Linked DNA regions of Homo sapiens: all the other regions are reported to be linked to region 4. Evidence: microRNA targets listed by miRTarBase, many of them from high-throughput screens and not tested one by one. Region 4 holds a microRNA gene; each other region holds the end of a gene's coding sequence. Distances are from middle to middle.
Evidence for each region. Region 4 holds the annotated microRNA hsa-miR-4279 (CUCUCCUCCCGGCUUC, at 3,407-3,422, opposite strand). A microRNA usually pairs through its seed, bases 2 to 8, with sites in the 3' UTR of a target mRNA and lowers its output. Matches are read on the target gene's strand: a 7mer-m8 pairs with bases 2 to 8, a 7mer-A1 pairs with bases 2 to 7 and ends in A, and an 8mer does both.

Region 1: the mRNA of PIAS2 is a reported target of hsa-miR-4279. Seed matches in the 3' UTR shown: 7mer-A1 at 6,634-6,640.
Region 2: the mRNA of LACTB is a reported target of hsa-miR-4279. The part of its 3' UTR that is shown has no 7-base or 8-base seed match.
Region 3: the mRNA of LEAP2 is a reported target of hsa-miR-4279. Seed matches in the 3' UTR shown: 7mer-A1 at 1,000-1,006.

The regions. Positions count from the first base shown.
Region 1 is chr18:46,805,945-46,814,136 of GRCh38, reverse strand. It overlaps PIAS2 (protein inhibitor of activated STAT 2), which reads left to right. Exons shown (of 14, transcript NM_004671.5): 14 at 1,525-8,192. The coding sequence ends at 1,704. Among named protein-coding and RNA genes, the nearest start is that of ST8SIA5-DT, 53 kb to the right of the region's middle.
Region 2 is chr15:63,139,895-63,148,086 of GRCh38, reverse strand. It overlaps LACTB (lactamase beta), which reads right to left. Exons shown (of 6, transcript NM_032857.5): 6 at 6,026-6,807. The coding sequence ends at 6,282. Among named protein-coding and RNA genes, the nearest start is that of RPS27L, 13 kb to the left of the region's middle.
Region 3 is chr5:132,873,938-132,880,937 of GRCh38, forward strand. It overlaps LEAP2 (liver enriched antimicrobial peptide 2), which reads left to right. Exons shown (of 3, transcript NM_052971.3): 2 at 13-152; 3 at 473-1,109. The coding sequence ends at 509. AFF4 (ALF transcription elongation factor 4) reads right to left here. Exons shown (of 21, transcript NM_014423.4): 21 at 1,458-7,000. Among named protein-coding and RNA genes, the nearest start is that of LEAP2, 3.8 kb to the left of the region's middle.
Region 4 is chr5:31,932,706-31,940,897 of GRCh38, forward strand. It overlaps MIR4279 (microRNA 4279), which reads right to left and starts at 3,454; the gene lies at 3,397-3,454. All of the region lies in intron 2 of PDZD2 (PDZ domain containing 2), which reads left to right.

The DNA.
Region 1 (8,192 bases), not on the chromosome of region 4:
AATCTGAATACTACTAAGAATTCAACGCACAGAGCCTGTTGATGGCAGCACTGTAGCATCTAGCACAACTTTCATGAATGAGTATCTTTTTCCTATAAGGCAATCAAAAACTACCTGAGAGGCAGCAGGAATAAAATGTAAGTTTCTGGGCTTTGTTCTAGATTTACCCCCCAGTTTTAGTGGAAAGTTAGAAATTGATTTGATTTTAGAAAAGAGTTTTAATACTGGACAATTCAACCATCTTTAGAGCTCCTTGGAAGCTCTTTAAGAACTGTTCTCCCTGTAACTAATGTCCCTTGACTCTGTATGTGGCATTCATTTTATTGATGAACCAAAACAGTTATCTATCCAAAGCATTAAATAACTTGTTCTTTTGAAGAGCAGTCTGAATTTTACTTGTTGCTGTCCCTCTGGCTGGCAACTTAAACCTGGGACTGTTGTTCCTGTTTTATTCACCGGCCTTGGAAATCATGTAGTCTAAACAACTTGACTTAAATTCCTGTTCCATAATCCAGTGTCTCTAATGATAAGCTGCATAATCTTTAGAATGGGGAATATGAATCAGATATCCTTACTGATCTTTCATACAGTTGAACTAATGACAAACTTAAACCATCTCTTGCAGGATATCACTAGACCTCTTGTTTTACTAAAGTCAGTGCAGTCGTTTCTCACATAAAAATATTCTATACTGATATAATGCTTTTGGCTTGTCTCTCTTCACTCCTCTGTTAATATTAGAGTAGTACATTCAGGTTTGTACTTGTTTGGGATCAGTAATGGGATCAGTAACCAGGATTGTAAGGGGACTTGTGAAATATGAGCACTAGGAAAGGGGTGTTAAGCAGGCATCACGAGAAGATTAGGTTAGATCTTCTTTAACATTTATTGCAAAACTTGGTGATTACCTGAGATAATTTTCTGTCCTGAGGATCCTGTGATAGCTAGCTACCGTGTAGTCTGTGTTTTAGAATGAATGTTGTCATTCTGATGACACAAGTATTTTACGTTTATGTACAAAGGAGTCCAATGCCATCATTCAGCTGGTCAGCCTTAACATTCATAAAGGATCTGTTTGATACTCAATCCATACCGGGAAAGGCTAACAAATACTTTTAAAAATGTTATTAAGCAAAAATGCTGGTGTAAGATCAACAATTCTTTCAAAATTGACACCCAACTAAATACAGTTAGGGAGCAAATTCTTTTTGAGATTAGGGCCAATATTTAGTATTAAATGACTTCAGTTATTGTTGACATTGTACTTTTACCTTTGTATGTGGTCAGCAAACAAGTTCCACAAGTTTAGAGAGAATCAAGAATATATGCTGCATTCTCTAAATAATGTAAAATAGCTAAATTCATGCTATCTTCCACCCAAAGATGTGAAGTTTTGAGCAATTTTTAAATCCCACTGGGATTTAAATATGTGACTATTGCTTGTGCATATCTAATAATTTCTAGTCTCTTTATTTAAAATCAAGTAGCCTCTTCCTCATTGGCATCATTGTTTGTTTCAAGCAGTACTGTCCTCCTATGTTTTTGGATAGTCTCACCTCACCCTTAACAGCAAGCAGTACGTCTGTCACCACCACCAGCTCCCATGAAAGCAGTACTCATGTTAGTTCATCCAGCAGCAGGAGTGAGACAGGGGTCATAACCAGCAGTGGAAGTAACATTCCTGACATCATCTCATTGGACTAAAGGAGGACTCACTTGATTCTGGGAATCATTCATCAGAACTGCTTTTTCTTGGATCTCTAGTCTGTGGAAACGTTCTTTTTTTTTTTTTTTTAATAATTTGGTATTTATTGAAAGTCAGATGGATTCTTTTGCTTTCTGAGGGGTGAACACAGAAGACTGCAACAAGAACCAAATGACATGCAAGGATTTTTCTTAATTATGCTGTACTCTCAGCATCAGATACATTCAACCATAACTGTATCTTCCTGAGAGATGGATTTCACTTTCATACGTTAATGGATGGAGTCTACAAATCAGTGAAAAAAGTTTTTGTTAAAATAAAGAGCAATAAAATTATGTAAATATTCAAGTAACCTTTTTTCTAATTAAAAAAAAAATTGTAATCACTGATTCTAGAATGACAGCAACTTCTGTTTAACCTTACGTGAAGGAAAAAAAATATATGGAAAGAACTTAATGTTTGCTGAATGAGTCCTTTCCATGGAGATTTGCTCTGTTTCATTGAAGTAATGAAGTTTCAGTACGTGGCCAAAGCTTGGATTCCACTTTTCGTCCTGCATTTCCACTTTTCTTCGTGATTGCATCAAAGAAAAATGGCATTCGTGTTACTTGGTTTTTTTCCTGCTTATCATTTACACTTTGACGTTGTTTGCTAATGAGTGCTGTGTGAAGTTCTGGGATTTGGCTACTCTTCATTGGTGATTATGTTTAAAAGCACTATGCAGATTCTGCCCTGACATAAAGTGTGTTATTATGTTTTTAGTAATTGTACATTTTTCATTCTAGAGTTTTCTATAAATTTGAGGCTTGCCTTCTCAAAAAAGAAACTATGCAGCCATTGAATGAAATGTCTTTGGGGTACGGTGTGACTGGAATGTTTGTTAGAAATTTGTTCACACTATCAAATATTGATATCTTGGAGCCAGCAGAAGAGCAGATTTTGGGAGGTGGTAATAACAAAATTTAATTTCTTCCCAACAACTTAATTTTCTCATTTATTTTACAGAATAGTAGTGAAATATTTGATGAAACTTTGTATTTTGGTAGCACTACATAGAAAATGTGTTTTAGATTTATGATGATCATATTTCTCACCAATGTAATTTCAGTCTCAGCAGTGATTTTCAAACTTAGGGAAAGGGACAGCATTAGATTTTTTTTTTTTTTCATTTTTTTAAAATGATATCTTACCTGAAACTACAAACGACAAAAGAGAATTAGAAATGTTTGAATTAAAGTGAAGAAGGGTTGGGGGAGATGGGCCTGAACCCACTTCCTGTCTCAATCCATGCTACCCCAAACACTCCAGGGAACCTCTGAGGTTTTATTGGGTGCACTTTGAAAATTTCTCTTCTATAGTGTGTTTGTTTGATTTTAAATCACAGAGAAAACTGGGTTTTACTCTTAGAGAAACATTTTCATCCAGTTTTTTAGTTTGCTTCATTTGACTTCCTAAATCATTTTTGAGTTCACAAGGATTTGGTACTTTTCTGTTTAGCTTTCTCTCTCTAAGCTTTATCTACCTTAAAAACAAAGTCCTTTTTTTAATGGCCAGTCCAACCAATTGATTTCTCAAACTGAAGTGCCCAGGTGTGGACTCATCAATTTCCGTTAGAATAGGGACATCCTACTTAAGAGTTGGTGCAGCTCCAAGGAGCTGACTTGTCCTTGCTTGGGGTTTTTTTTTTTTTTCTTTCACCTTCTCAAGTTTCCATGGCCTTTGTGTGTTCTTTTTATGTTGATTTAAATTCATATGGTTTTCCACAAATCCCTTCTTTGGCTACATTGTCTCCTTATTCAATGGATTATCCCTTTGTGGGGGCTGCTTATTTTAAAGATGTTGGGGGGGAAACAAACCCAAATCTACGAGCAGTAGTTGCACATAGTTGCCAGTTTTACCTTCTTAGTCATTAGATTTCCAAACCATGTTGCAGTTTTTTGGTCCAGATATAGTATTTCTTTCTAATAAAGTTTTATGTTGCTGCTCTAAATACAGATGCAATATTTATTGACTCTGTAATCAGATAGAAAAAACTTAACTTGGTTTGTGTGGTATGACTTATAAAGAAATGATGTATATTTGTTATTTTGTTACCCTTTAGATTGTCAGAGACTCCCCCAATTTAATCAACAAAGTTTTATAAAGTAAATGAAAATATTAATAGAAATTAGTTTATTTACTTGGTTCTTATAACTGATATCTCTGTGCTTTTATAATTGTGATTTGTTTTTTTGTTTTTTTTTCTATTTTCTGTGAACAGTTTTAATGTTCGGTTTTGGTGTTTTACACTGAAATTACATATAAATTTTTAATTTATTTCATACAGGCAACTTGCATTTTAAAAAATACACTTTGAAGTTTATCATCTTGAAATTGGGGCTTACGTTGTTTATCTGTCTTGAGCATTAGTACTTTATGACTTTGGCCTTATGGCAACATCATGATTATTAATCCGTCAGCCTTTAATGTGGTCACTGTTTCTTATCCAGACCCTGACTTTCTAGTAGTTTATTTTGCTAGCCCAGATTTCTGCTTAACCAAATATAAGGGAGTTTCAGAGGGGTGATCTTAGCTGTCACCTAGATTCTGTCAGCCAACCAGTGATTGTCTGGAATATCTTAGGAAATGAACTGTAATTGTCAGCCTCCTAAAATCAATTTTTTTTTTTTTTTTTTTGAGGCTGAGTCTTGCTCTTGTTGCCCGGGATGGAGTGCAATGGTGCGATCTTGGCTCACCGCAACCTCCACCTACAGGGTTCAAGCGATTCTCCTGCCTCAGCCTCCCGAGTAGCTGGGATTACAGGCATGTATCACCACGCCCAGCTAATTTTGTATTTTTAGTAGATACGGGGTTTCTCCATTTTGGTCAGGCTGGTCTCGAACTCCCGACCTCAGGTGATCCGCCTGCCTTGGCCTCCCAAAGTGCTGGGATTTACAGGCGTGAGCCACCGCGCCTGGCCAAAATAAAATGTTTTTATCTTTCTTCACTTAGAACTATGAAGGCCTTTTCTTGTTCTGGTAACCCCCCACAGTGTAATTGGTGCTGAAAATAGTTTCGTGCCTGAGGTCTGTTGTCACTCACTCACTTTCTGACAATTAGGTGAGCCACTTGAGGATTTTCTGGCCTGAAGTTATAAAAACTTGGCATCTGTCCTAAGGTAATTGTAAAGGCAAAATGAAAGCATTGAGGTGAATTTAGGTTATATGGCATTTATCTGGTAATGTGTTTCAGAAAAGCTAGAATGAAAATGTGATGTAAGGGATAGCAAGTGTAGGTTGATTCATAATTCTTGGTATAAAACCAAGTTTTCCTTAGTCTTGAGGAATTTGAAGAAAGGTAAAATGTTGGATTTTAAGCAAAGTAGGATTGACCAGAGACTGTTCTGACTTTGACATTCAGACCTTTCAGATGTTCTTCCTTCAGACCAGTCCAAGACACTCAGCATTTCCAGCCAAGTTGTCTTTTTTTTCTGCCAATAAAGTATTCATTAGTTGACGTTTGTTTGTATTTTAAGTAAAGTCAATTTTTTTTAAAGCATTAATTTAATTCACGGGTATGCCTTTCATTTCTCTGGCCTTCAGTTGGTTTAAAAAAAAAAAAAAAAAAAAAAGCACTTAGCCGGACCATTCTTTCTTTAGTAAACATTTTTATTTTCTTAATTTTTCCTGAAAGATTTTCTTCATTTTCATGGAATGTCATAATGACACTACCATTATTTTCTAGCTCTTTGCATAATAGAAAAATGTAGAGCAGTGCACCATTTAAACACGTCTGACATTGGATTTAGTGGTCCTAGGTTCATGTGATTTGGGAGCCTTAAGTTGTTATTTAGATTGATTCAGCCTGATTCACCATCTTTTTTACTACAGTTCTACATGAATGTGGTGAAACAGGTAGAAGAAAATTAAGCATTTCTCTGCTTTTGGAGTCTAATGTTCCTGCCTAGTGACTGGTTTGTAACACCCCCCTCACCCCTACTTTGTTAGGAACCTGCAATTCCTAAAAGAAATAAATAAAGCTGTACCCAATGTCCATTCTTTAATGCTTGCCTGGTTGAATAATGTTTGTTTTTTCTGTTTATGTCAGTAGTACATGCTTATTGTGGAAAATTTAGACAATACAGAAAAGTATAACAATTAATTGCCTATGATTCTGTCACCAGAAAAAATCACTTGATATTTTTGCATCTTCCTTGCCATTGTCTTTGCTACTTCTGCATATTTTTACTTAGTTTCATCATTCTCAGTGTAATTTATATCTTGGGGTTTTTCCCCGCAACCTACAGGCATTATTCCATGTCATTAAAACTGTGTCAACTATTATTAATTTTATGGTACTCCATTGTTATGGATGTGCCATGTTTCATATAACCTTTACTTATTTTGAACAGTTTAGATTATATCTCATAATGCCACAATGAATGTCTTTGTGTATAAATTATTTTCTTAGGATAAAATACTGGAGGTGGAATTTCTAGTCAAGGGTATATGAACACTTTTGTAGTTCTTGATTCATACCACTTTTCCACATGGGTATGTTAATTTATACTGCAGCTAGATGGTATGGGAAGGGTGGTCTAGCCATATTTTCCAAGAACATGCAACGTTTTATCTTTATGCAGGCATCTGCACTAAGACCCTCTGCCTTTCTGACTCTATGGAACGGGGTTAACTGATATGGAGATCATTGGCAGAGATTTTCCCAAGCTTTCTTAGTTTTAAATATATCTGACATGGGCCGGGTATGGAGGCTCACGCCTGTAATCCCAGCACTTTGGGAGGCCAAGGCGGGCAGATAATCTGAAGTCAGGAGTTGGAGACCAGCCTGGCTAACATGGAACATGGTGAAACCCCATCTCTAGCAAAAACATAAATTAGGTGGGTGTGATGGCAGGCGCCTGTAGTCCCAGCTACTTGGGAGACCGAGGCAGGAGAATCGCTTGAACCCAGGAGGCGGAGGATTTGCAGTGATCCGAGATTGTGCCACTGCACTCCAGCCTGGGTAACAAAGCAAGACTCTCTAAAAAAAAAAAAAAAAAAAAAAAAAAATATATATATATATATATATATATATATAAAATCTGACATGTTTCAGAAACACCTACGTATGGCTATCCAAGCTTTTCCCATGATTTTACTGGCACTGTAAAGTTGCACAAATATTCTTTGTCAGACTACGTTTTCCATCTTTAGTTCAAAAGTTTTGTCACTTTTTAAAAAAAGCCTCTTGTACCTAAGGCCTGCCCTTAAGAGGTCAGCTCTCTTTTTCCTCTTCCTGTAGGCCCCATTATGGCCTTTCTGAGCTCCCCAAAGCCAGTAGAATCTACTGAGCCAAAGGCATTCCATCCCCAAACTGAAAAGTGGTAAGGCTAAAAGCTATAAAAACAGGCAAACATTGCCTGTTTTCACTTTATATTCCCTTATGTTTCCAATAAGGGTAGCTGCAGGGAAAGAAAAAAACAGATTGCTACCTTCAGATGTTTGAGGTACAACATTTTCTTGATTGGCGTAGCACAATCATTTCCCAAACTGCTTCCTATTTCTGAATGGCTTTTTTAAAAAGCTTTATTTTGTGTTCTCAAAGCTTAATTATTTTAAGTGACGAAGAGTGTTACCGTGTTGTAGAATAGCATATGCCTCTTATTTTGGCCTTCATCAAACTGTTTAATAAATGTTTAGAGTGTTTTGTAAGTACACGTGGAATAGAGTGTTACAGAAGTTTTGGTTCCAGACATCAGGCAGCTTATAATCAAGGTTCCAAAAATCAAGAATTCTTAAGCTGGGCATGGTGGCTCATGCCTGTAATCCCAGCACTTTGGGAAGCCAAGGCAGGCAAATCACTTGAGGCCAGGAGTTTGAGACCAGCCTGGCCAACTTGGTAAAACCCCATCTCTACTAAAAATACAAAAAATTAGGGCATGATGGCTCATGTCTGTAATCCCAGCTACTTGGGAGGCTGAGGGATGAGAATTGCTTGAACCTGAGAGGCGGAGGTTGCAGTGACTCAGGATCATGACCCTGTACTCCAGCCTGGGTGACAGAGTGAGACCAAAAAAAAAAAAAAAAAAAAAAAAAAAAAGTAACAGGCATTGTGCAAAGAATTTTCCAAGAATGTCTCATTCTTGCAATGGCTTCTCAGAGGAAAGTGGTGTTATTCCCCATTTTACAAATGAAACAGGTTTAGGTAAGTTTCCCAAGGTCACAGTGAATGAGTAGTGGACTTGGGAGTCTGACCTAGACTTACCCCAAAAGCTCTCTGCGTAAACTGAAGTGACGTTAATTAGCTGTGCTATCTAGGAGACTGATATGGGAATCTAGACTTAAAATTATGAGAACTGGTTTCAGATGATGGCCAGAGTAATAAGGAAGGAGTGGATGCTGAAGCCATTTCAAAGGAAGACTCAAGATTCAGTGACTGAATATAGGAGTAAGGGTTGAGTGCATTTTTCATCCATTTTTCAAGCCTGGGTAACTTGGATGTTAATGGC
Region 2 (8,192 bases), not on the chromosome of region 4:
TGGGACTACAGGCCCATGCCACCATACCTGGTTTATTTTTGTATTTTTTGTAGAGACAGGGTTTCACCATGTTGCCCAGGCTGGTCTCAACTTCTGGGCTCAAGTGGTCCGCCCATCTCAGCCTTCCAGAGCGTTGGGAATACAGGTGTGAGCTACTGCGTTGGCCTAGAGATGCTTTTTATGGGAAGTCACGATAATGGTTAAAACAGGCTTTAGAGTCAGATATGTGTGGGTTTGAAACAAGTGCTAGTTAATGGTTTGTGACCTTGTGAAAAAATAATAATATTTCTACTTAATAGAGTTATGTTGAAGGTATAATGAGATAGCATATACAAAGAGCTTAGCAAAATGCCTTCCCCACAGTAAGTGCTCTGTTAATAGTTTGTGTGGGCCAGGCGCGATGGCTCACGTCTGTAATCTCAGCATTTTGGGAGGTCAAGGCGGGTGGATCAACTGAGGTCAGGAGTTTGAGACCAGCCTGACCAATACGATGAAACCCCGTCTGTACTAAAAATACGAAAATTAGCCGGGCGTGGCATGTGCCGGTAGTTCCAGCTACTCAGGAGGCTGAAGCAGGAGAATCACTTGAACCTGGGAGGTGGAGGTTGCAGTGAGCCGAGAACGCGCCATTGTACTCCAGCTTGGGCAACAAGAGCGAAACTGTGTCTTAAAAAAAAAAAAATAGTTTGTGTGGTATTTTTTTTTAAGTGGAAAGCAGTCATGTCTATTCAACATCAAGTACTTTAATGTTCCATTTTTTCCCTAAAGTGATTTACCCACCTTACCACCACACTGGAGCATAGATATGTTAACTTTTGCTACAAAACAAGTCACCCCCAAATCTAATAGCTTAAAATGTTGACTTATTACTATTTCTCATGAGTATATGAGTTGGCTGCTTACTCTGTTGGTCTCATCTAGGTTCACTTACACAGCCACCTTCACCTGGAGGCTCAAATCATAGGTCTGGCAGCTGGTGCTAGCTGTCAGCTGGGGCATCTCTGTTCCCCTCCACATGGTCCCCCATCCTTCAGTAAGCTAGTCTGGCTTCTTTACATGGCAATCTTGGGGTAGTGTTCTTAGAAGGTGGCAGACAAAAGCTTGAAAGCCACTTAAAGCCTATGCAGTGGGACTTGTGCAACATTATTTCCACCACATTCAGTGGGTCAAAAAGCAAATCATAAAGCAAGACCAGATTCAAGAGAGTGGAGAAAGAGCTCCACCTTTGGATGGAAAAAGCAGCAAAATCACATTGCAAAGTTGCATGCACAATGGAATGAGAGGAAATCGTGGCCATCAAAGAATTGGTGGTCGGGCACGGTAGCTCATGCCTGTAATCCCAGCACTTTGAGAGGCTGAGGCAGGAGGATTGCTTGAGTCCAGGAGTTCAAGATCAGCCTGGACAATATTGTGAAACCCCTACTCTACAAAAAATTATCCAGGCATAGTGGAGTGCACCTGCATTTCTAGCTACTCAGGAAGCTGAGGTGGGAAGATCACCTGAGGCTGGAAGGTCAAGGCTGCAGTGAACCATGATTGTACCACTGCATTCCAGCCTGGGTGACAGAGTGAGACCCTATCTCTAAATAAATAAATAAATAAAAATAAAAGAAAATTCCAAATGGGGGCCCAGGCATGGTGGTTCATGCCTGTAATCCCAGCACTTTGGAAGGCCAAGGTGGGCGGATCACTTGAGCCCAGGTTACAGTGAGTTACGATCATGTCACTGCACTCTAGCCTGGGTGCCAGAGCAAGATTCTGTTTCTAAAAAATAAATAAATTCCAAATAACATAAAACACTAACATTAAAGAAACATTAAACATTTAATGTTAAAATAACATTAAAGAAAGGCATGACATTTTTATGTTTATCTAAGGGCACGGATTGAAAACTTGACAAACATGAATACAGGACCTAGAGATCAGAAGTCAGAAAGAAATAAGGAGATGAAATGGATCTGTTTTAGAGAGCTGCTCTCTTTCTACTTCAACCAACTCAGAGATATCCATCTATTTACTTGTATAAAGTGTTAAGGGAAGAAACAGATTTAGGGCTCAGAATTATAGAAAAGCCCTTCCTTTATTAGGGTGTATAAAAACTTTGATTTCTTTTTGAATTTTCCTGAGTTCAGTGGCACACTGGTAATCTCTAGTACACATGATCTGTGGCTGTTAGAACAAAATTCCCCAATACGTTAACACTGCAGCCTCCAAAATGGCTCCCAATGATCCCAACCTTCTGGTATCCACTCCTTTCTACAGTCCTCTCCCACACCAAATCAGGGTTGGTTTCTGTAACCAACAGAATTTGGCATAAGTGATGGCATATGGCTTCCAAGGCTGATTTATAAAAGACATTGAGGTGTTTCCCTGTTTCTTCAATCGCCTGCTCTAAAGGGAAGCCATAGCACAGACAAGCAGACCTATGGAGAGGGCCATGTGGTGAGAAACTGAAAACTCTTGCCCAAAGCCAGCAAGCCACAAAGACCTCTTGCCCATGGCCACGTGGGTGAATCATTTTGGAATCAGATTATCCAGCCCCAGTCAAGCCTTCCCTCAGATGCCTGAAGCCCCTGCTGACATCTTGTCTACAAACTCATGAGACCCTGAGCTAGAAACACCCAGCAAAGCTGCCCCCAAATTTCTGAAACACAAACTGTGAGACAATAAGCTTTGGGGTAATTTGTTATGCAGTAATAGATAACTAATACACATTATACTACAGGAAAAAGCTCAAGACACAGAAGGCCAGATATGGTGTGATTCCATTTATATGAAACATCCGTAACAGGCAAATCCAAAGAGATAGAAAGTAGATTGCTGGTTACCAGGGGCTGGAAGGACAGAGGAATGGGGAGCAAATGCTAATGGGTATGAGGTTTCTTCTTGGGGTGAAAATGAATTGGATAGTGGTAATGGGTACATAATCTCGTGACTATACTAAAAACCACTGAATTGTACACGTTAAAGAATTTTATGGCATATGGACTGTGAATTATATCTAAATTACGTGTGTGTGTGTATGTGTGTATGTATTTGGAACAGAGCAGCGGATGGAAGTTGGAAGGACTTTAAGGAAAGTGTTAATGAAAACCTGAAGAGCCTTGAAGAAATTGTTGAGAAGTATGGCCTTTGAAGAGGCTGCAGGTGTAGTCTTAAGGAAAGTAAGAGAAATCTTATTGGCAATTAGAGGAAGGGATTCTTGTTTAGTACTGACAGAAAATTTAGCAACACTGTCGCCAGGAGTAACTCAGAAAACAGAAAATGTGCCTAATGAATTGGGTGACTAGCTGATGGGATTTCCATATGCAGTGTTTTTTTTTTTTTGTTGTTGTTTTTTGTTTTTTTGTTTTGAGGCTGGGTAATTTATAAAAAGAGGTTTATTTGGCTCACGGTTCTGCAGGCTGGACAGGAAGCATGGTGCTGGCATGTGCTTCTGGTGAGGGCCTCAGGAAGCTTACAACCATGGCGGAAAGAGAAGGGGGAGCCCGGATGTCACAGGGCAAGAGAAGGAGCAGAGAGCCATACACAGTGTTGAATGTGCTTCCTTAATTCTTGTTGCTTATACTAACATGCAAGAGAAAGATAAGCTAATGGAAGAACTATTGGTAAAGAATTAATAATTGATGGTTTAAAAAATTCCCAGACTCTTCAGATTGCAAATGATGCCAAAATTAAGAAATGGCTTCAAGGCAAAGATAATAATTGAGGGCACTTCCAGGAAAACATAGTCTAAAGATGATATTGAGGGCATGACTATACAATCCTTTCTCAAGACTTCAAAATGAATCAACATGGTGCTTCAGAGAACTATTTAAACAATAGAGTTCATTAGATTATTAGCGTAATTAGTTCTTCCCATTATCTTGGCAGAGACAAGCCCCAAGTTAGAGAGGGGATATTCTGAAGGGACTTTGGGGTGGCTTTTGTCTACTGGCATAAACCCCAATAAAATTCACAGGATACTCTTAACATTTTAAAATATTATATTGTCAGTTAATAGGGTTGCTAAAAAAAATTCAAAAATTAGAGAAATAAAATATTATATTGGCAGAACCACTGTTAACTTAGATGGAAAGGAAAGAGAGTATAAAAAGGCCTTTGGGTCTCCAAACTTCTACAAGTGGAAAGCACACTGAGAAAACCACTCAGCTAGAAAGATACGCTACCTTTCATGAAAAAAAGGTATGGGGAAGCGGCCAGGCTTAGTGGCTCACGCCTGTAATCCCAGCACTTTGGGAGGCCGAGGGGGGCGGATCACCTGAGGTCAGGAGTTCGAGACCAGCCTGGCCAACATGGTGAAACGCTGTCTCTACTAAAAATACAAAAATTAGTCGGGAGTGGTGGCACGCACCTGTAATCCCAGCTACTCGAGAGGCTGAGGTGGGAGAATTGCTTGAACCCAGGAGGCTAAGGCTGCAGTGAGCCGAGATTGTGCCACTGTACTCCAGCCTGGGTGACAGAGGGAAACCCTGTCTCAAAAAAAAAAAAAAAAAAGTAAAAAAGAACAATTAAAAAAAGTATAACTCAGGGGCTGGGTGCGGTGGCTCATGCCTATAATCCCAGCACTTTGGGAGGCTGAGGTGGGTGGATCACTTGAGCCCAGTAGTTGAAGACCAGCCTGGGAAATATGGTGAACAGCTGTCTCTTAAAAAAAAGAAAAAGTATAACTCGTAAGGTAGAACTAAGAGCCCAGAGAACATAGCCAAGAACTAAGAATTATTCTGAAGCCTTGAATACTAATCAGAGTTGCCAACCTCTGTCTGACTGAATTTCAGAATTGCCAGTCTCCTGTATGTCTTCCACTTCCCTACTTTTTGAAGAGGACGGTATCTAGCAATTATCCTATATCTGCTGTGCTACGGTATGTTACACATATGGGGAGCAAATAACTACAGTTCACAGGTCTTAAGAGAAACTACTTGAGTTGCTGTACCTAAGGAACTCATCCCAAGGAGCCCTCATTCACACTTGCACCTGACCTGATTTAGATGATAAGATACTGGGCTTTGAGCTGATGCTATATTAAGGTGAAACTTCTGGAGGATTTGAAAGGAGGTAAGAGTATTTTGCATTGGGAAGGACATAAATCATTGGGGACCAGAGGTCAGACTGTGGTACCCAACTTCCAAGTTGACACCCAGTGATTCCTGCCTCCTAATATTCACAATGTATATAATCTCTTCAACATTTATTAGGCCCCATGTAACCCATGGAATTTGGCAAATGTGATGGTATGTGACTTGAGGCTAGTTTATAAAAGAGTGACTTCTGCCTGGCACTCTCTGTCTCATCACTTACTCTGCGGGAAGCCAACTACCATAAGATACTCAAGCAGCCCTACAGAGAGGTCCATGTGGTGACAAACTGAGTCCCCTTGCCACCCACCAGCCAGAGAACTGACTCTTGCCAGCAGTCATGCAAGTAAGCCATGTGGAAGCATTTCCTCCAGCCCTGGAGAATTCTTCAGATGATCATAACACCTTGTCTGCAACCTCATTAGAGACCGCGCCAGACCCACGTGACTATATTGCTCCTGATTTCCCGATTCCTTCTCTGAACGTTTCTTTTAAGCTGTAGTGGATAACTAATATACCATTTCTCATGCTTTTGTTTCTGCTCTCATATTAAAAGGATATTTGGGCTGGGCACAGTGTCTCACGCCTGTAATCCCCAGCACTTTGGCAGGCTGAGGCGGATGGATCACCTGAGATCAAGAGTTCGAGACCAGCCTGGCCAACATGGCGAAATGCTGTCTCTATTAAAAATTCAAAAAGTGGCTGGGCATGGTGGTGGGTGCCTGTAATCCCAGCTACTTGGGAGGCTGAGGCAGGAGAATCGCTTGAACTCAGGAAGCAGAGGTTGTGGTGAGCCAAGATCACACCACTGCACTCCAGGCTGGGTAACACAGCAAGAGTCCATTTCAAAAAAAAAAAAAAAAAAAAAAGAAAAGAAAAAAAACCTCGGATATTTGGAGGCTCCTGTTGAATGAGATTTTCTCTGTATTACACATGCAGAAAGTACATATTTTATCAGAATATTTTATTTCAAGAGTTAACACTTTTTTCAAAAAGTAAAAACAATATAATTACTTCCCTGAGTATAAAGAACCAATTCTACAATAAAAGACCATTACAAAATTAAGCAATTAGAGGTACATAATTCTCTGCATTCAGTTATACTCTATTTCAAATTTATTCTTAAAAATGTCATGTTTTGGAACTTTAATGTTTCAAAAAAACCTCAGAACAACTCATTTTGCACCTATGGTGTTAAGGTTATCAGTCTGATCTGTCTTTATCAAATTCAAGGGCAATCTTCAAAGCGGTGCTATTGAGGCCAACAGATTGCATGTTACATATGATAGAAACAATGATTCCTCTTGGGGGAACCTTGTTATTTATAGTCTCTGTATCCAGTTCTTCAGGAAGGACCAGCAGGACACTACTGGCACCCACTGCCCCTCCAGTATGTGAAGCATAATGCCGTTGCTTTCTACACGAACCATACGTTTGTTTCCTTTCCACAACACCCCACGCCATTGCATATTTACCCTCTTTATCCCAAGACATCTCTGTGTTAGGGACTGGGGTCCACATCATAACCATTGTTTCTGGTTTGAGGTATCCAGGTAAAAGATTTTCATTTGAGTTCTTAAACAGCCCAACTTGGTAACCATAAAGCATTGCATTCCCAAATTTCAGAAGGTCACCCACTGTAGACAGAAATCCACCACCAGCCCATTTATAGGAGTTATCCACGTAAGGTGTGTTGACAAGACGTTTCTTTTTATTGTAAACATAAAATCTAAAAGGAAATAAGAAATGATCATGAAAAATTTCATAGTCACTGGCTTCACACATGATGATAGAAAAATGTATACATGAGAGAGATTGTATTTCAATGTAATGATCATACATTCTCAGAAACTATAAACTAACCACTAATTTTCAGTATGATTCAGGTCCTAATGACACACAGATAACTAAGTAAGATAGTCTAATTACCTTTTGAATTAAAGCATAGAAAGTGGTTTTTTTCTATTGGTATGGCTTGTCCATGCTGAGTGTATCAAACCTTTAATACCTGCAAAAATGTATTGGTTAATATTACACATGACATATTTGCCCTGTGCATATGGAGAAAGTTATCATTTGGTAGATATTCCTTGTCCTTGGGGTTAATGTTGCATCGTGCCACAAATGAATTTTATAACCAAAACTGTAAACATCCAAAGCACTTTGGGATGTTTAGGAATAAGGTTATTTGTAAGATGACTAGATTTCTTGGATAAAAATACCATATAAGCTGGGTGCAGCAGCTGGTGCCTGTAATCCCAGCAACTCAGGAGGCTAAGGCAGGAGGATCACTTGAGCCCAGGAGTTTGAGTCCAGCCTGGGCAGCAAAGCAAGACCCTATCTAAAAAAAAATTCTAAACAAAATACCATATACATATCATATATAATGATGTGACATGGTAGTTTCTTGGTGCAGTGGGAAAGGCTGGAGTTAGCAAACCCTAGTTTGAATCCTTTCTTCTTTTTTCAAGATTCTTATACGTCCCCTAAAAGTACAAGTCATAATATTGAGTGAAGTAGGGTTGGCAGTTAGGAAATGAGTGGCCACAGGTATGTGTCTGAAGATTTTAAAAAAGAGGTGGTTTTCTCATTGTCTCAAAATCAACATGTCTGTCATGTTTCTCTCCATTAAAACCTTCATTATACAACTTTTAATGACTTTCTTGCCCTAAACTCTCACATCCAGTAAGATGCTAAATCCTATTTATTCAATCTCTGCTTTGTGTCTTACCCTTCTCCCTTCCTTCTATTCCTATGACAACTCTCAAATTTTAGGCCCTCATTACTTTGTGTCAACTCCTGATTATATTTGTAATTCCAGCCAACCAAATAAAATTAAATCTAAAAGTTACATAATAGAAACACATTTTTTCATTGAGAAATAAATTTCTACTTTTCTTTTGAGACAGAGTCTTGCACTATTGCCTAGGCTGGACTGCAGCGGTACAATCATGGCTAACTGTAGCCTCAACCTCCAGGGCTCAAGCAATCTTCCTGCCTCAGCCTCTTGAGCAGCTGGGACCACAGGTGTGTACCACCATACCTGGCTAAGATTTTTTTTTTTTTTTTTTTTTGGTAGAGATGAAGGTCTCACTGTTGTCCAGCCTGGTCTCG
Region 3 (7,000 bases), 100 Mb from region 4:
TTGCCCTTACAGATAGATGGCTCCCCAATACCAGAAGTGAGTTCGGCAAAGAGAAGGCCACGGAGAATGACCCCATTTTGGAGAGGGGTTTCCCTCAGGCCTATTGGAGCCTCCTGCCGGGATGATTCTGAGTGTATCACAAGGCTATGCAGGTACTCCCTGAACCTGGGAGCAGGGTTGGGCCAGAGAGCCCTGGGAAGCTGGGCAGAGGAGTGACAAGGGGACACATGAACCTAAGAATAAAGCTGGGATGGAGGAGTTCTAGACTGAGACTGGGAGCTCCATGGAAAATCCCTTAGGAGTTAGGAGCCAAGAACAGCTCTATGTGGGTACCATGAAAGAGTGGTGCCTTTCCATTCTTCAGTCTTTCCTGAGACTGGACAGATCAAGCAAAGAGGAAGGAAATGCAGCATAGGTGGCCCTGGTCATTCCTAGACCCAGTCTTAAAAAACTACCCTTTCTTTTCCCCTAGAAAAAGACGCTGTTCCTTAAGTGTGGCCCAGGAATGATGTACATACCAGGGAAAGAAAGGACAGCAGTCACCTCCGACAATGCTCCGTTCTATGGAATATTGATTAACTGCATTTTGGCTGGAGACACCCAAGTGAAGCAATCTTGTATTTTTAATATTTAAAGGCAGATGTACGCTTTAAATTGGTCTCCATTTCTTCTTAGAATGTTGATATATGGATAAGCATAACTAAACTTGTCAATTTAGAGTTTATTTTTCTATGGATACTATTAAATGTCTCAAATTGAAATTTTAGCAGTCTGGAATTCAAGCTTTTGAGGGAAAGAAGGATTCATTTTGTATACTAAAGAAAAAAACAGCATTGCCCAATAATGTGTTAACTTCTCAATCTGGAAAGTGTAGTGAGAGCTACATAATCAATAGCTACGTAATCAACTTCAGCAAGTTCCTAAGCTGTGGCCCTGGATCCCTTCACTCCATACTCTTCAGGGAGGTGTCAAAGGTGGTCAAGCTTGGGAGGCTGAGGCAGGAGAATCACTTGAACCTGGGAGGTGGAGGTTGCAGTGAGCCAAGATCATGCCACTGCACCCCAGCCTGGGTGACATAGAGAGACTCTGTCTCAAAAAAAAAAAAAAAAAAAAAAGATGGTCAAGCACTTGCCATCTAATGAAGCACCCAGGTTTGTCTATGGCTGTCTGAAGATAAGGCAGAACAGAGAGAAAAATCTAGTTTAATAAAGCAATGAAAGCCCAAGCCACCAAAAGCACCAAAAGAGATTTAAGATTTCTGTTGGGACAAGGTGAATTTTGACATATGCACAAGGACCCATGGCCAGCAAGTTCAGAATTTCTGTAATCAGAAAATGAGACCTCAGCTGGTGGGAACAGACTTTTAAAGAGTAGTAACGGACCTTAAGACACAAAACAGGAATTGCATGAAAAGGGCTCAGAGTTGAAGAAATATAAAGAGTACAGTGTTCAGTAACTTTAATACAGAAAATCTATTTGATATTTATTAAACTTAGTTTCTCCAACTATGGTTTGGCATTGTACAAAGCATCTTAATGACACAGTAGAGTTAAAAAGATCTTTACAAATTGAAATGTGATACCCTTGTCTCCAAATATTTTAATTGCCATAAATTTGTTTAAAAATACACATTAAACGCATGTTTGACACTCTAAACTTTCTATACTCTCAATACCACAAAATACATATAATATACTATACAGATGTGGAAAAATCTAGTTAGTATATAATACTTTGCTCACCATTAACAGCTTTATCGTGTGAAATGCACATACTGACTTAGAAATCCTAGCTTTTGAGCCCCAAAGTACCTCTGAAATTGTAATGTATTGCAACAAATAAAAATCACAGTATATAATTGAAATTCTGGTTGAAAATGTCAGATGCCTAAATATTTTGGATAAAAGAAATGTAAAACAAAGATTTGGTTCATGTACAAAACAAAGGCATCCTTATCAGTCACTAACAGTACCTTTCTGCAAAATCAACAGGCTTTTAATTTATCAGTGACATTATCTCCCCTCCAAAACCCTCCCCAAATATCAAACAATTATATACCAAATAATTTTAATTTCAAATAAAAGGATTTTCAATAAATATATAAGCATTTCCATCCTCCATATACAAAATTTCTTAAAACCATTCAAAACGGAGGCTAGATAGAAATTTTCATAACTGTGCTTACCAACCCCACAACTGGCCCTTAAAGGTGGTGCCTTTTCAGGCAATGTCAACTGGCCAGTTCTGTTGGTGAGCCCCCTACCCCCACCCCACCCATCCCAGTACTGTTGAATGCTCATGTTAATGATTTGCCAGGTGTGTGCATAAAGTTGTAAAATGGGGACACTTCTGGAACACCAACAACAAACTCAACAATATGGATGATCATGGCATTGATTTGAAAGGCAGCATTTCCAAATTGATATTTTCCAGAGAGGAACATAGCAGGTAGAAAATTCCAATGGTTAAAAGCTGAAAAGAAGTCCCACATGGAAGCAGTAAGAGGTCAAAACTGAGTATCACTAGAGTTTCTGGGTGGGAGCTTTTTTATTTTTAAGAATGGCAAGTTATGTTTAGCTGAGTAACAGTGGCAAGGAGAGGTCAATGCTGACATTCCTGAAAGTCAACTTCTTTACATGATGACTACTTAGGCTGCTATTTTAGGATACTTAAAGATCTCTAAGACTTGGATTAGACTTAACTTGAATACCTTATTCTGTGACCAAATTACATGAAAAGAAGATACATAGTTATTATTTCCATTCCCTTTTCTGGAGACAGCAAGTTCTTTCTAATTAACCATAGGGTTCATGTGAATAGGAGCTTTGTAAGACCAGCATCCACTTTACAGACTATTAATAATTTACTTTTTGTCACTTGCTAACTTGGTTTTGGGGTCTAGAGGTCTAAAGTGAATTTCTCCATTAGCGAGTATCTGAAAGACATGCTCACAAACATGAAAAATTTGGCCTCTTCTCACTACATATTCCAAGGTATTCAATAATTATCTCTTCTATTAGTTTTACTGAATAGCAACCTTAGATGTACAGTATTATTACTGGAAAAAAAGCCTGCCTCTTCAATACATTAATGCATAAAGCTGAAATGAAATTTATGTTCCATGTATTAGGGGATATACAGGTATGATAGGTGTCTATATGGGTTTGAAATGCTCTGTCTCCCCAAGTTACTTAGGTTTTTTAAAAAACATCATCACAAGCTGCCTAACAGTCATCCCCAGTAGATGTTCCTGGGACCCAGACACAAACTCCTATAAATCAAAATATATAATGAGGCCATACTGTTCAATTAGCAACTGGAAAATTAAAATCTTTCCCACCCTGTAAGAGCCCTACGACACTACAGAAGGGCTCAAATACATTTTAAAAGTTAATTTACTACAAATCATAGTAATTAAGCTTTAACAATCTAAAGGAATACACATTGCACCCTTGAACATTAATATTCAAGGTGTCAACAAGAAAGTGTCTTAGATCAATTTAATAAATAATGTGGAAATAGTTGCACTAAGCTAAAATACTAAACACACACATATTTGACAAACTAATTTCATGTTTTCATACATACATACATATATATAAAGTGTGTATGTGTACAGAATTTTAAGATCCAAAGTTGCATACCCTTACACCTAGAAGAGTGCACAGTGTACTCCTCCTCTATATAACTAGGCATCACTGACTGGAACAATCACTGGCTGCTCTGAAACTCCAGAGTACTGGCCTCTAGAGCCAGAACTTTCATTTATAACAAGTGCCTTTTGTAGGCTCTTGCTTCAGAATGCAAGCTCATTCATGAAGAAATGTACCAACGTTTCTGTCATTAAATACAAAATTATGCTGTCTGATCTGTCTGATTAAACCTTTAATGAAAAGAAACGAACAACAATTTTTTAAAAACTAGTGAATCTAATAAAGCCAAGTGTGTCATTCAAAGTGCAGCCCAAGTGCCTATGAATCCGCCACTGCCAGAGCTCCCAGAAACACAGGTGTCTGTGGGCTCACGCACACTGCTCTCAATTGTTTTTACACTAGAGAATTAAATAAATGGTGGTCAACCTTCTCCACTCTTCGGCAGCTGTAGCTGTAAGTTTATCTGAAGTACTCACTGCATATAAAGTCACTTCTTGGCTACTTGCCCAGAAAAAGGTGGCACTGAGGCAAGGAATGGGCTGGATGCTCTCTAGCCAGACTGGAGCCTGGGCTGAGCTGTGGAAACTCCCCTGAAGGGGAATGCTTCCCACAGCCCAGCCCAGTCTGGCCCAGGCAAGACTACTGTGACAACTGCAACCACTGCAATTGGTTCGTTGGTTGCTTGTAAAGAGTCTAATGGTGTATAGGCTGCTGCCTCCTGGCATACAAGTGTAGTCATAAAGAGCAGTCAACAGAGTAACTGTTTAAAATAGTTGTTGTTTCTATAATTAACCATATACTAAGTACAAGTCTCAGACTAAGTTTTTAGCCACTTGTCAAATTCAGTTTTAAATGCTTAGAAAACACTGAGGACACCTATTGAGGAGGGAGGGGGGAAGGTCACCTGTAAAGGAGTCCAAAGTATGTGCTGGAGCAGATGATGACAAAGACAGAACATCTAAGAAGATAGACATGGAGGAAAGGGAGTAGTATTTCCACACACTATGACATTGAAAATTCAATCATTTATGATAGGATTTTGATCCATTGCCCATTACTACCTTGTGGGAAAAATCCTCCACAATGAAAAGGTTGAAAAATTCATTCTCCAAAAATTGACACAGTTTTAAAGAGAAAATATTAGAGCAGCACCATAAACCATGCAGGAAACTCTGCTTTAACAAAATATCAGTGTGACCCCAAAAATGCTCCTGCTGCCTTTCAGGACATACAAGAGACTAGAACACAAGAACTCAGAGGTATCCCACTGGCTGTTGTTGCTGAAAGTCTGAAAGCCCAGAGGATACTTTTTCCATTTCTAAGACATCACTGCAAATTAAGGAATCCAAGTCAGAAAAATCAGAGAAGGACAAGACATAACATGTATTTGATTAACAACCATTATTTCTTACTAAATAACTATCATGATCATTGAGAAGTTGTCCTCTTATGGAAAACTGTTCCTAGAACACACTAAGATTAAGTTAGAAAGATATCAGAGGCAATTTCTCCAAGAGAAACAGGTTAAATTCAACATAATTTGTACATCTCAATCTTCAATGACATCTAAAAACAATCTGAGGTACAAAACAGTTAAGAAGCTCTATAAATATGAGGCCACAGGGACAATGAAAGTTCACTAACTTCAGAAATAAGTGTAAAAAAGTCTCAAACACAAAGGATTCACTGCACTACTGGACTTGAAACTTTTCTATCCCTTCTTTCCCCTTTCCTATTTCAAGCCTTAGCAATCATCTACAAATAGTAGGATAATCTTTTTTTCTGACTGAATGGATTCATTTTTGGAATGGGGAGAGGGACAAACTATTTTTCAAAGCAGCATTACCCAACTGGTTAGACTAAGTCATGTACCAAAGCAATAGCTTTTCTGAAAGAACTAATCTTTATATGACCCTAAAGAAAGATTTAAAATGAAAGAATTGAACATTATTATTGTAGAAGACCAATCATGTATGGACGATCTGGTCCTAGTGTAAAACTTCATTTGTAAACAATCCATAGAGTCTTCATTTAAAGGTAAGATTTAAGGCACACCAAACATGATAGGGGCATGAAAAATAAAGTATAGAGGGTACATTTCTTATCTTAGACTTCTATATGCACCTTGTAGCAAAAGGTACTTTGATATACAACTCTTACAGAGCCAGCTTCTTTAAGCTCTACCCCTGGCTCCACTCCCTGTCCCAAGAGCTCACACTGAATCAAGTTAGGTACACTTTTCTAGTGTGAAATTTTCTGATTCCATCAGAAACATACATCATTGAAGAGGGCCTTCATAATGCAAAAGGAGTAAACAGAAGATAGGTTTAAAAAGGAGAAATTCATCATCTCTACATCAGGCATTAGAACTGTAAGCTGTATAGCAAAAGCACACACCGAAGCTCCAGCCTATTTCTGTATCAGTCATTGCATGCTCATATCAGAGCATCACAATCCAGTATGAGGGGGAAAAATCTGAAAAATAACTCTAACTATCAAAGATAATCAATTAAAGACACACAGGCGGCAATCCTCAGGAGTTGGATCATCCTTTTTTCCACAGTAACTTATTCTGTTTCGATTAAGTGTCAAATGATTAGCAACAAAAAATAACATATGGTTTTAATAAAATCCGTAACGTTCAGGATTGTCCTTTTATGAAACCCTTCAACATGAAATGCTTCTTCTAGAAAGTTTGTCCTCCCTCTTTTGTAATGCATTAAATGCAAGCTATAGTCACTGTGTGATTGCTGTAGTGTTATTAACACACATTCACAGTTTTTGAAATAATGCATACCAAATCAGACACATTTCATAGTACATACATGTAGAATGCCATTTTCTCATATTTAAGTGATTTTTTCATGTGTAGAAGAATATCCTTAATACTAACTGTAAATTCCACAATAATAAAATTGGAGTTAAGATTTCAAATATCAGGTCAGGTAGCAGGTGTAGAAAGAATATGTCCTTATTTTAGACGAACCAATTCTTACTCTTAGAACAGCTACCACAAAAAGATATTAGGTAATAAAGCTCCCAAGGTATATAAATAAAAATGTCTACATTAAATTTATGCTAAATATTCAACAGAGTAAATTTATAGGCAGAAATAACTAAGTCTTAAACTAGCCCCAATCTGGGAACTTAAAAAAATTAAAATAAATAAAATTTCAATTCATTAGTTATGAATTGCAACTGGAATTTCAATCTTATCATAGCTCACGGAAACCATCTTATCAATGTGCTGCAGATTTAAAAGCATTTAAATAATCTTTCACATTGGAAATATTAAAGGGCCAACTGACATGATCGCTTTGGATTATCAAAAACAACAACACATGAAC
Region 4 (8,192 bases):
CCAGAAGGCTTTTCCTCTTGCAAAACTGAAACTCTGGATCCATTAAGCAGTAACTTCCCATTCCTCCTCTCCCCAGCCCCTGGCAACCACCATTCTACTTTCTGTCTCTGTGAATTTTACTATTCTGAGTGCCTCATACGATTAAAATCATATAGGGTTTGTCCTTTTATAACTGGCTTATTTCACTTAGCATAGTGTCCTTTTTTTTTTTTTCTTGTTTTTAAGACAGAGTTTCGCTCTTGTTGCCCAGGCTGGAGTGCTATGGTGCAATCTCGGCTCACTGCAACCTCTGCCTCCAGGGTTCAAGTGATTCTCATGCCTCATCCTCCCGAGTAGCTGGGATTACAGATGTGTGCCACCACGCCTGGCCAATTTTTGTATTTTTAGTAGAGACGGGGTTTCACCATGTTGGCCAGGCTGGTCTCGAACTCCTGACCTCAAGTGATCCACCCACCTCGGTCTCCCAAAGTGCTAGGATTACAGGCCATGAGCCACTGCGCCCGGCCAGCATAGTTTCTTTTCAAAACTCATCCAAGTAGTAGCATGTGTCAGAATTTCCTTCCTTTTTACGGCTGAATAGTATTCCATTGTACATATGTATCACATTTTCTGTATCCATTCATCCATCAGTGGATGCTTAGATGGCTTCCACCTTTTGGTTATTGAGTGGACAGTGCTGCTACAAATATCGAGGGTGTGAATATCCATTCGTGTGTCTGCTTTCGGTTCTTGGGTTTATACCTGGGGTGTCCCTTGGCTTTTGCTGTATGATCGACTCCTGCTGGGGATTTCTGGGATTGCCCTCTTTGTTACCTTTCTGTTTTAGCTTCTGGGAGAATCTTAGGTGTGTCCCTAGGCTGGGCTTTGTGACCCGCTGGACAGCCATTACTGAGCCCCTGCCTACAAAGATCCACACCTTGTCCCCTTGGCACCATCTTAGAGTTTGAATCAGGAAGATTTACGTTGTAACCTCAGTACTTCCACTAATGTGCCCTGTGATGTTGGAAAGCTTCCTCATGTTCCTGTGGGCCTCTGTTTCCACACGAACGCAATGAGAAAGTAGAACTCAGTGATCTTCAGGGTCCCTCCCGGGTGATGGACAGTGAGTGCACAGTGGTCTCCTAAGCCCAGTGACCAAGGAACCAAGGTGGACACGAAGAAGGCAGAGCCCCAGATGCCTGTCATGGATAATGCAATTCAGAAACTTGGGTCGGTTAGGTGGCTTGTGTACTTGCTGAATTCTGGTGTATGCTACGTGGCTCGTTTTGTGAGTAAATGTAGCAGTAATTCCCCTTAAAGCAAAACTATATGTTATATATTATCCACCCTTCGTTGAGAGAATGGGACAAAGAGAGGCAGGATAACTGGTTTTACCATAGATTTTTGGCAGATGTCACCAACTAATACTGTCAGGAATATTTTATAGGCAAATTTTACCTCTTGTTAGGACTGCAGTTTGGTCACAGGCCAAGGCAATTTTAATCTTTTTCCCTCACTTCTTTTAAAAGAAAAAAAAGCTAAAGAGCAGACTTCCTTCTCCTTAGCTTGAACTGTGAGCAGGAGTCCACGCTTTCCTGAACTAGGAAGGTGAGTTCCAGGAAGTTACCCACACGATCAACTTTCAGGCCTCTTGAATGCACACAAAAAATGTGGACTTGCCTGGGGCTCCCTGCTGGTGTTTGGAGACTAGGAACTAATCCTCCCATTAGTTCTTTCTCTGCCGCACCAGGGAAACATCATATATACTAGTGACTTTCTGTCTTCTTTATCTCATCAGTAAAAGGCGGATCCTGTTTTTGTTTTCAAGAATGTGTTAGGGTATTGGGATGGCTAGAATCCATTTGGAGCACATGAGAAAATGTATAGCATTTTCTGTTTAGGAGACATTTGAACCATCTAATTAAAAAAAAAAAAAAAAAAAGACTTAAGTCCGGATACTAGACCACCAGTTTTTTAATACATGGAAAATTTAGAAGCAATTTCAAAAATGTCTCACTGTGACTGGAACTAGGTTATGTCAATACAAGGCTCCTAGGGGAAAAATTTATACTGGATAAAACTCTAAAATAAATGAATATACTAAAAAACACCAAAAATCTGGCCAGCAGTGGTGGCTCACACCTGTAATCCCAGAACTTTGGGAGGCCGAGATGGGCAGATCACTTGAGACCAGGAGTTTGAGACCAGCTTGACCAACATGGTGAAACCCCATCTCTACTAAAAATACAAAAAATATCTGGGCATGGTGGCGGGCGCCTGTAATCCCAGCTACTCCAGGAGGTTGAGGCAGGAGAATCTCTTGAACCCGGAAGATGGAGGTTGCAGTGGGCCGAGATTACTCCACTGCACTCCCACCTGGGCAACAGAGCCAGACCCTGTCTCAAAAAAAAAAAAAGAAAGAAAATAGAATGGCTGCAAGAAGTAAACAGAGGATGTTTGCTCCTATTTTGTTCCTTACAAGTATAGCTAACAAAGGACCTTGTGAGTATTGGAATAATAAAATGTCATTCCCATTTAAGTTGCACATGTACATTTTTATACCTGCACCAAAGGTTTTTGGAATCTTTGTCTCTGGCTGTTGGATCATGAAAGACCCCTTTGGCTTCAGCTGTAAAACAAGGCAAATTTTACCCATAATAGAAACTACTATATATGTGTGTTGGTTTAGGGAAGCCTATTTTTTAACATTCTATTTCCTGATAAAACCTTAGAAAAATCATATTGTGTTTAAAAGTTGAGGATTTTTTCAGCAACTCAAGGGCTGACTGATAATTTCTGGTTTTGCTAGTACTTGTCTACAATGGAAGTTGGAAGCTTAGTCGGAGTAGAAAAGTTGTAAATTTGGTGTCATCAAGACAAATGGCTTTTATTTCCCAACAGACTTCTTTATAAAATAATTTAACCCCTTGATTTTTGTTTGCATTTGGATGCAATTTAAAAAAAAATCTGGCCCTTTAATAAGTGCAAGACAGATTAAATGTATTGTGAAATATCAGGTCACTGAGTGGAAAGTTTCTTCACTGATCATCCTAGCTTCACATTTTTAGTTATGTGAAGTACACATTTTGATAGTATTTTGGTTTTCTCCTGCCTGAAATCTTCAGTCCTCCTCCCTGGCAGTCTGTAGAATGAAGCAGCTGTGGTCCGTGGCCAAGTGTGCGTCCTTTGGTGATGGAAGAGCTGATCTGCAGATACCTGCAGGAGGAAGCCATGCATGATGTCTGCTGGGATATGATTTCCCCCCATACTCCTGGAAAATTAGAACCGTTTATAGCAGCCTGGTTCCAATACACTGGCAGGGCAAGGATTGGCTCCTTCTCTTACAAACACAGCGTGGCTGGATGCATTCATAAATGAAAAATGATCTGAGTGCTGTGGGTGGGTGGGGCTCTGGAGCTCAGGAGGTGAAGCCGGGAGGAGAGAGAGAGAATCTGCTCCTCAGCTCCACAGAGCATGGGGAGCTGGCAGGAAGTTGGAGCACGCATGGCGCAGCTTGTATTTTTGTTGATAGTTAATAACCCAGGACTTTAAAGACCTGAATGGAGAAGGGAAGTGAAGCACAACCAACTTTGGAGTCTGTCCCATTCCAGAGGCTGCTGAAGCACAGCAGAGCACGCTCACCTGACCAGCTCATAAAGCAGGTAGGACGGGAGACCTGAGTGGTGAAGAGAATCACATTTTCTCTCTGAACACAACTTACAGGTCTTCCAAGGGTTTATTATTTTTTAATTATATGAGAGATGAGCAGGTAATAATAACATAAAAGACTCAGCTTGAATTGTGCTGATATCTGCCCAAGCAAGAGTTCTCTCAGTTACTAGTGTGATGACCAAATGACAGTTTTATTCTGAGAGTTGCTTTAAAAAAAAAAAAAGAAAAAAAGCATGCAGCATTGAAGCTTTTTTAATTTAAACTCATTTAAAAATTGGCAGATGATAAATGAACTGCAGACACTGTGTTTTAGAACAAATACTTTGAAGGGAGTCAACCAGAAACCGATTTTCAGGCTTGACTGTGGCTCCATTTTCATATTTCAGAGCCAACGAGGTGCTCACTAATTTTTGCTGGCTTTTGTAAGAAAGGAGGTGGATGTATAACAGCTGTGAAATATCCAGAAATTGACTGGGATCCAGAGTGAAGCCCGAATGCACTAATGTTTTCTCCATTAAGGCAGGCTGCCTCTGCTCGGCTTCTAAGTCAAGGGATTGGAAAGCAGTGTGAAAGTGAAGTGTGAATCCTGAATATTTGTCATGGAGTGGGGGGAGTGCAGAGGGTTGGAAACTGTCACAGTGACGTTTCACACTCAGAAGTAGAAAATAAATGGGGAGGACCATGGGTGGCAGCCACATGCAAGGATAATTTTAAAACTGATTTTTGATTCCCATGATTGTAGCCGAGTCTCAGGGTGTTCCTTCCGTTGTCAAGGTTTGGGGCTTGTGATAAGAGAAGTAGAACAGAATAAAGATCATCTCCAGCCCCAGGTTCTGAATCATTTCTAGGCCTTGCTTCTCCTGGGCACTGGGATGATCTGACATGTTTTCCCTCACTAATGAAGTGGCCAGGGTGTTGGGGGATTGGGCTAACATGGAGGAGGTTGGATAGAAATGGTGCGTGTGGTCAGCCTGAGAAGAACGTCAGAGGTAGGTGGAGAATTTTGTTTCGGTAGAATAGCCCAGCCTGAATCCTGGAACTGTTTGCGTTGAGGTTTGGAGAATGCCCCGTAGCCACAGGGGTGTGTCTGAAAAGGCAAAATTGGGAGCTGCTTGGGTTACTGCTTACTGCCTGGCTGGCATCCTCATGCTGTGGTCATCCTCATGCCGTGGTGGCCACGTTTTGTGGCTTTGCATTTTAGTCCTGGAGGGCTGGGGGATGGCTGTGTTTAGTCAAGCAAGCCCACACATCATTGCTAGTCTCTCTTTCCGTGTGATTTCTCAGCATTACACAGCTAGCCTTCTATGGGAGGAGGAACGGCACCTCCTGTGGTCTTTTAGAAAACTTTTTCACCCCATGTTCCTACCGTCGCCACCCCAACTCTTGTCCTTTCTTGCCTACTGTTCACCTGTTGTGTGTGTCCCCTTTGTCTCCCATCCTTCAGACTGATCTGTCCCAGGTGCTATCTGCAGTGACTTAGAAGCTGTGTTGGGGACAGGTTCCTTCCCAGGGTTCCTGCTGGAAGCGGTGTTCAGCAAGCTATGGCCCTTAGGCAAATCCAGACTGCCCTAGCCTGTTTTTGTATGGCCTGGGAGCTAAGAATGTGTTTTATGTTTTGAAGAGTTGAAGAAACAAAGAAGAATATAGGACAGAGATAGTGACCCACAAAGCCTATCCGATCTTTAGAAAAAAACATTTGCTGGTTTGCTGGTTGGTCTGTTGATTTCCGCCCCCATTTAGAGACAGAGTTTCACTCTGTTGGCCAGATTGGTGTCAAACTTTTGACCTCAAGTGATCTGCCCACCTCGGCCTCCCAAAGTGCTAGGATTACAGGTGTGAGCCACTGCTCCCAGCACTCCACCTTGACCTGTTGATTTTTTAATATCATTGGTGAATAATGTGATCAGTGGGTTGATGCAGCAAGTTAAGCCCTCAGCAATTTGAATGGGCTCTTGTTTGGGAAACTGATTTTAGTTTCTTAGTCTGTATTGGTGCCATCGCCTCCAAATGGGTAGATTCAGGAGTTAGGAAGTTGAAGCTTTTCTGCAGGGTCCCAACAATAGTAAAGAAATATTAGATGAACTATGTGCCTGTGGTTGGATTTTCACCCTCTTTCCTGGTTTATGAACCTGCTGGAAAAGACACCTATGAGTCCAGCCATGTATTGACTGTGTGCCCTACTGGAAGAACCCATTGGGGACCAAAACTCTGGTAATTCACACAAGTCATTCACTTCTTTCTCTTTTGCATACTGAATGCTGGCTAGACTTCCACAATCTGAGAGCATTTGGTGTTGCCACTTTGGAAAAAAAAAAGATGTTTTTTGCAATTATAAAAAAAAGACAGCTGAATACCATGTTTTCTCATATTTAGAACAATGTTTCTTTATTGCCCTCTAAGAAAGCTTACTGTAGGCCCTCCAACCTTACCTCTGAACATGCAGTGCTCCTCTACCCAGCACAGTATTTCATTGTTATGTCATTTCTAATAAAGGAAGAGGAAAATCTGGTGACCTTGTTCATGTTTAACTTGTGTCGAAACTTCAGGCCTCGGTATGGAGCCATCTTGTGTAAGTAGCTTTTTGTCCATTGCAGAAACACAGGAAAGCATCTCACAGGAGATTGTTGTTTACTACCGGGACATTTCAACCATCTTTCCTCCTATATTTGGAAATTGGATGTTGTCAGTAGAGAAGAATGGGGGTGGGGCCCAGTTTGACAAAACAAGTGAGGAAGGATGAAAATATGAAAAGTATGGCGCCCCACCAGAGGTAGGGCCTGGAAAACAAGATGGCGCCTGTACGCTTGATGAGCCAGGTTGTCAGAGCTGGGAGGGGTGGGTCCTTTAATCTACCATGGGAGCTGGGCAGCACTTTCGTATTTAGAAAAGGGGTTGGCTCTGAATTTAGAGATTAAGCAACCTGCTGTTCCTGTATGCACTGGAATTTCAGACACAGTCAGAAACCTGATTTGCGTAACTGCTGAAACTCAACTGGAAACCAACCAGACTGAGGTCTGGACTCCCCAGGCCAAGGGGCAGTTAGGAATCAGCACGTGAGAAAATGTATTAGGCTTGCCCAAGAGGGAGTGGTGCTGTGTGGCCAGATGCAGTGAGGCGGGCTGTGGGGTGAAGGGTTGGCTTTGGGTTCCCAGAAGGCTCAGGCTGGAGGGTGAGTAACCTCTTCCTCTGCATGGGTAGGCAGTGTGTGTCAGAATTCTAAAACTACCTGGTACCACATGGTAGCACGTGGGACCTTTTTGCTTCTGAGCCATGCAACCAAGCTGGCTCCTAAAGAGACAGAAACCACCAAAGTCTAGTCACTTTGGCGTGCAAGCCATGAGCAGCCCTTAACAAGCCAACTCATCTATACAATGTTGTGAGGGCTGAGTGTCCAGCCCAAAGCTGAAGCATCTGTCATCTCCCTTTGGCTATGGAAACAAGGCTGGAATCAGACATCTATTTATCATTTTTTTCCTTATGGTGAATAGAATCAAAGACCAAGCCAGACGTCTGCATATATGCACAAAGTGTATAAACCTAGAGGAGAGGAACAGCCAGACAAAATAAAAGTTATGATTCTGAATTCAAGAAAACTTGTGACCATGTCTATAAAAGGGAATCAATAATTTCGTGGCTCAGTGGCCAGCAGAGGATTCCTTTCTGTGGCTTTGTGTTTACATACAAGCTGTGCCCCTCTTAAGAGCTTTTGTAGGTGATATAGTCTCTCACTTCCAAACATGAGTTCTTCACATTACCTACGGTGGCACTGGGGGTGGAGCACAAGGTCCCTCATGCCATGGAGATCCCGACTGGAGCCCTGCCTTTCCTTGGTGACGGGGGAACAAGATAGCAACATTCTCCCTCCATGGACATGGCAACTGTTCCTTGCAGCAGGGCATACCCCTTTGTGACTTCTTCTGTTGTCTTTGCTGTCCCTTGTAGGCCCATCTGCCCAGATTGCCTTCGTTAAGCACATGGGTGCCTCACTGGATAGCCACACTGTGACTCCACAGATGGCCTCAGCAGGGCACATTGTCAGCCCTGCACCATGAGGTCCCTGTACCACGAGTCAGGCCATGACAGCTGTTGACTTGGGACTCTAGATCTGCCTTCCCTTTCTTTCAGGATCTCTTCCTGTAGAATCAACCCAACTATATTTTACATGCAGCAGAGGAACTTGGTCCTTAAAGAGACCAAAAGTGACTCATTGGTAGAAGAGAAGGATCACCCTATAGTCTGTATTTTTGGTAATTTTGAGGTTTGGGGGTTGTCAGGTAGCCTAAAGCCACATACACCCAGACCATCTCTTTGCCTTTCTCATTTCAACACTTCCCAAATTAGAAGATGGAAACCAAGTTGGAAATTGGCAGAGGAAGGTGAATCTGAGGAAGGCACGAAGTGGCCCTTGAGAATCCGTTTGGTAAAAAGTCTCTATTTCAGTGAGACACCTGAGACCGCAGGGGCAGAACATCAGTGCAGATGACTCCCAGTGAAGGGCAGATAAATGTTCTTGTGTTTATGTATTGTGTTTTTCCAAGGCT